Linked DNA regions of Homo sapiens: region 2 is linked to region 1. Evidence: fine-mapped expression QTL. A gene starts in region 1. The other region holds a variant in brackets. All regions are shown on one strand. Distances are from middle to middle. Region 1 holds the start of TRADD (TNFRSF1A associated via death domain). Region 2 overlaps CES4A (carboxylesterase 4A).

The links.
Region 2: its variant is fine-mapped to the expression of TRADD in whole blood (TOPMed, PIP 0.99).

What each region holds. Positions count from the first base shown.
Region 1 is chr16:67,158,321-67,161,331 of GRCh38, forward strand. It overlaps TRADD (TNFRSF1A associated via death domain), which reads right to left and starts at 1,589. Exons shown (of 5, transcript NM_003789.4): 1 at 1,518-1,589. FBXL8 (F-box and leucine rich repeat protein 8) reads left to right here and starts at 1,637. Exons shown (of 3, transcript NM_018378.3): 1 at 1,637-1,736. RefSeq lists an enhancer at 758-1,017 and silencers at 1,618-1,757, 2,778-2,867.
Region 2 is chr16:67,004,604-67,007,103 of GRCh38, forward strand. CES4A (carboxylesterase 4A) reads left to right here. Exons shown (of 14, transcript NM_001364782.1): 10 at 190-270; 11 at 637-790; 12 at 1,788-1,916; 13 at 2,142-2,214. Among named protein-coding and RNA genes, the nearest start is that of CES4A, 17 kb to the left of the region's middle. The variant A/G (reference allele first, on the strand shown) is at 982.

The DNA.
Region 1 (3,011 bases):
ATGCCTGGCTAGTTTTTGTATTTTTAGTAGAGATGGAGTTTCACCATGTTGCCCAGGCTGGTCTCAAACTCCTGGGCTCAAGCGATCTGCCCACCTCAGCTTCCCAAAGTGCTGGGTTACAGGTGTGAGGCACCACACCCAGCCTTCTAATCTTTTCATAGAAAACATTAATACTTGTGTACTTACGCCAAACCACAGTCTGGATAGTAACAGGAAGTTTGCATTTTGTTTATCTCTGGGCAGGATGAAGGAAGGTAGGTGGGGGTGGGGAAGGATTGTGGGTGATTTTTATTTTCTTTGTATTTAGCAATATTTTCTGCTTTATGTGAAGTAGACATATTTTCTTTGTATTAAAAGAGCAAAATAAATTTGTTTTCTTTAAAAGCAAAACAAGAAAAAACAGGAAACTCTGCAGGTGACAAGTGGGTCCATAATAGGGAGCCAGCCACGGAGGTGAGATAAGGGGGGAGTCCTTCGAAAGTGGCCTGGGGAGTAGGAGAGAGTGGGAACTTCCCCTGGAAACATTCCCTCTTTCATGTCTTTCTGGCCCCTTGACTTGAGAGTGCTTGACTTGGTTATGGTCCCACCCCAAGGGGTGGAAGTGGGGACCGAACAGGACCATTGTCTGCCCATCAGGTCTGTGGGGGTCGAGGGGGAGGTGGGGAGTACTGGGAACCTGGAGACTGGGGATGCTTTCTCACACTCACTAGTACTAGAAGATGGGGAAGGTGAACCAGGCTGGAGGTCGAGTTAACAGGGTAAAGAGGCCAGGGCCCTAGTTTCGCATCCGCCGACTGGCAGCTCTTCTTACGTGTTCTTTCACGGAAGCCCCTCCTTGGGAAGCCCCGCGCCCCACCCACCAGGAGTCGTCCCTTTTTGGGCGGGGCTGAGGCTTCCAGGCTGGGTCCTGAGAAAGTTTGGTGGCCGGAGACTGTGGGGCGCTTAGGTACCGACCTAACAACTTCTGCGCCTGTTTCCAGGGACGAGCCACGCACGGTGCCCCCTGAACACCTAACAGTCCCGGGGGCAGCCCCACCTCTGGCTGGGTGGACAGAGACAGCCTGTGGGCGTGGCCCAGAACTGAAAGCCTGTGACTCCTTGCGACCCGCCGGGCACACCCCCTACTCAGCTACGCAGCTCCCGAGCGCTTGAGGGGAGCTTCCCAGGCTCCCACTAGCCCACCCTCAAGCTGGGGTTTCGCACGTGCGATCGGCTGGGGTGGGCAAGGGGGTCTCCGCTCAAGGAAAGTATTCAGAACCAGCCCCTTCTCCCCCACCCTCTCTCCTGCAGGGCCCTACTGCACCTCGAAAGTGCTGGCAGGGACGAGGAGCCTGCGGGGGCCAAATTCCGTACCGTCCCCCGCCTCCCACGGTGTTCGAACAGCTCAGTAGACCGCCGCCACCAGCTGGCTGGAGCAGCCGCCGGTGACATCTGCGCCGCGCCCACGCTTCGGAGCCAAGATCCACCTCCTCTCCCGCCCGCACCGGGGAGCCCACCCACCCACCTGCTGCACTAACCTGGCCGCCTCGGCGGGGCCTGGGTTCCCACGCCCGCCAGGCTCCGCTCTACTCCGCCGCTTCCGGGTGTGCGCGGAGGCGCTGGGGCGGTGCCCTAGCCCGAGCCGCCCCGTCCGCCCGCGCGTCCCGCCCCGCGGGCTCCCGGTGGCTGCTTCCCGTCCGCTGTCCTCTGCTGCCAGTCCCCTGCCCCGGGCAAAGCCCATCTGGTCCGCCGAGCAGGTAAGACACCAGCGCCCAAGGTTAGACGGCAGGAAGACCCGACTTTGGGGGTTTGCGATTCTTACGAGGCGGGGGGCTCGTAAGAGCTACAGCTGCCAGACTTCGGTAAATCAAGGGGGCGCCCCCTGGAGACCAGAATTTTCTGGTACCCCTGGGGATCCGGCTTCAAGATCGCTGCTACCAGTGGGCACTCAAAACGGGGTGCCCATGGGTCCCAGGTACAAGCCCGGCCGAACGTATCTGAAGCCCCAGGAAACACGTGGCACAAATTCCGGGAGAAACTGTTAGCCCGGAAGATATGGGAACATTAACTGGCGAGTAGTGTGAAGCCTTGTGTACACAAACCTTTAAGAACCTTAAAACAAGATTGGCGGCCGGGCGCGGTGGCTCACGCCTGTAATCCCAGCACTTTGGAAGGCCGAGGCAGGTGGATCACCTGAGGTCAGGAGTTTGAGACCAGCCTGGCCAATATGGTGAAACCCCGTCTCTACTAAAAATACAAAAATTAGCCCGGCGAGGTGGCGCGCGCCTGGAGTCCCAGCTACTCGGGAGGCTGAGGCAGAAGAATCGCTTGAACCCGCGAGGCGGAGTTTGCAGTGAGCCGAGATCTCGCCACTGCACTCCAGCCTGGGCGACACAGCTAGATTCCGTCTCAAAACAAAACAAAACAAAAACAAACAGGATTGGCAACTTCAAAGAGGACGCACACTTTCCAGTAACCCATCCCCCTCTAAAGGCTGCGCTCCAGGGTGGGTCTGCGGAGTTCCAGCCGAACCCAAATTGCTCAGCGGGAGCCAGGGCTGCTCAGGGGTCGGAACTTAAATCTTGAGCCCCTCAGGCCCCAGAACCGTCAGGTCCCAGAGACCCAAGTTTTTTTTCATCCAGTGGGGCTGTCTTAGGAAGCACCCGGGACATCTCCCCGGCGAGGCGGAGGCGGGGAAGGAGCCTCCCCTCCAGGGGTGGATCCAGCTTTGCCCCGCCCACGCCTCGCTTCCTGATTGGCTCATGGTCCCTGACAAAGAAAAGCCTACATTAACGCTCCCGCCTTATTAACCCTGTAGTCACTTTCTACTAACCGGCGGGGTTAAGATGGGGTTTCTCAGGCCGGGCGCGGTGGCTCATGCCCGTAATCCCAGCACTTTGGGAGGCCCAGGCGGGCCGATCGCTTGAGCCTAGGAGTTCGAGGTCAGTCTGGGCAACAAAGCGAGACCTCGTCTCTGCAACAAAATTACAAAAATTAGCCAGGCGTGGTGGCGTGCCCCTGTAGTCCCAGCT
Region 2 (2,500 bases), 150 kb before region 1:
CCAGGTGGTAGTGATGAGCAGGATGGGAGCAGGGGGACAAGAGAGAGTCATGGGCCCTTCCTGGGCTGTGTGCTGTGTCTGATAACTCATCATTAGATGGGCAAGACCTTTGGGGCCTTTGTAGCTCTGGCCAGAATCCCTCCTAATGCTCAGGCCTGACCCACACTGGGGTCCTTGTCTTGTGAACAGATCATGAAGTTCCCGCTAAACCGGCAGGCGATGAGAAAGGAAACCATCACTAAGATGCTCTGGAGTACCCGCACCCTGTTGGTGAGGGACCCAGCTGGCAGGGGTGCTCAGTTCGGACAGGGTTGACCCCCCTGTTTTTTTTAACCTAGTAGCTGCTCTTTGCAAAGGGGCTCCCAGCCAGGGTAAGGATCTTTCTTGGAGGGTCTGGGGTTTGCTGTGGGATCAGATGACTGCTTACAGGTAAGGTGCTCAGGGTCACAGGGGCAGTTATGCAGCAAAATCAGGGGTTACAATCAGCAGAGACAGAAACTTTCCCAGGAAGCTCCCTTTCTCCCCCTCCCAGGCCAAAAACTCCTGGGGGGCTGAGCATGGATCCAAGTCACTGGTGGGCCCACCTCTGGCCCAGCTGGCACCCAGGCCTCAGGTAAGTGTGGCCTCCTCACTCAGAATATCACCAAGGAGCAGGTACCACTTGTGGTGGAGGAGTACCTGGACAATGTCAATGAGCATGACTGGAAGATGCTACGAAACCGTATGATGGACATAGTTCAAGATGCCACTTTCGTGTATGCCACACTGCAGACTGCTCACTACCACCGAGGTATGCAGGGTCCCCAAGAGTGGCCACACTGGCCCCGTCCACTCTCCAGGTGTGCTGTTTACCAACTGGGCTTATCGACTGCTCCCCTACCCTCTCTGTACTTCTGGGCTAGTATAGGATTCTAAGATATCACAGAGGAGGCAGCATGCTATCAACTACAAGAGAGGAAGGGGCCAGGCACGGTGGCTCAC[A/G]CCTGTAATCCCAGCACTTTGGGAAGCCGAAGTGGGTGGATCATTTGAGGCCAGGAGTTCTAGACCAGCCTCACCAACATGGTGAAAACCCATCTCTACTAAAAGTACAAAAAAATTAGCCAGCTGTAGTGGCGCATGCCTATAGTCCCAGCTACTCAGTAGGCTGACGCAGGAGAATCGCTTGAACCTGGGAGGGGGAGGTTGCAGTGAGCCGACATCACACCACTGCACTCCAGCCTGGGCAACAGAGCGAGACTCCATCTCAAAAAAAAAACAAAAAAAGTATAAGAGAGGAACTGTTCTTCCTTAGGAACAAGGGCAGGACCTCAAACAGTCCAGAGGAGAAGCCTGGGGTGGTCAGGGAAGGCTTCCTGGCTGAGAGGACAGGCTTAGGGGCACCTTGAAAGTTCAGGCTGACTGGGGCTAGGGGAACATGTGGGTAACAGGTTAAAGGGGGGGGGGCTGGAAAATGCAGACACCAAAGACCCTTCAATATGAGGCCAAGAAAGGAAGGTTCAGAACAGGGAAAAGGAAGGCTTCCATGATCCTGGCCACAATCCTGTGAATTAGGTTTTAGTATTCTCAGTCTGAAGATAAGGAATTATTGATACAATTCAGAAAGGTAGAGCAACTTGCTTTAGGTCACACAGTGAATGAGTAGTGCAGACAGGATTCAAGTCTGCCCCCTTGATTCTGAAGCCAAAGCTCTTTTTCCTGCTTGGTGCAGGTGAGTGGGAGGCATGGGGTGGATGAGAAGCCTAGGCAGAGGCTTTTCCTGCATCCCTCCTCAGTTTCCCTATTCACAGATGCCGGCCTCCCTGTCTACCTGTATGAATTTGAGCACCACGCTCGTGGAATAATCGTCAAACCCCGCACTGATGGGGCAGACCATGGGGATGAGATGTACTTCCTCTTTGGGGGCCCCTTCGCCACAGGTGCAAAGGTCCCACCTGATACCCCAACTGGGTGTCCAGTCTCCCACCTCTGGATGCAGACCCACCCCTCCATTGGCTGGCCACAGGGAGCTCACCAGTTCCTAATCTGTTATGCTCTCCCAAATGAAAGTCTTCTGCTCCGGAAGCAGCAGAAGCAGCAGGAGTAGGGTGGGAGGTCAGTGTCCCCTGCTCTGTCCGAAATCCCACATCCCATTCTGCCCCCAGGCCTTTCCATGGGTAAGGAGAAGGCACTTAGCCTCCAGATGATGAAATACTGGGCCAACTTTGCCCGCACAGGGTGAGTCTGCCCCCCAGCACATCTGGGCATTCTACCTGCCCAGTGCTGGACCTGAAGAAGCCAGCTGCTTCGGATATTTGCCCCAGCATGTCCTACAGGAACTGCCCAGTCGGCCCAAACAGGGTGCCCCTTCTTCTTCAGCTTTCCTCAGTCAGTCACCGGATCCTAAACGTCTCTAGAATGTGTCCTTCTTGATCCATGACCCACACTCTTCATTCACTCAAGCATTCCACAGTCATTCACCACTGCACTCTTTTGGGCCCAGCCCCAGTACTGGGAGCTGGAA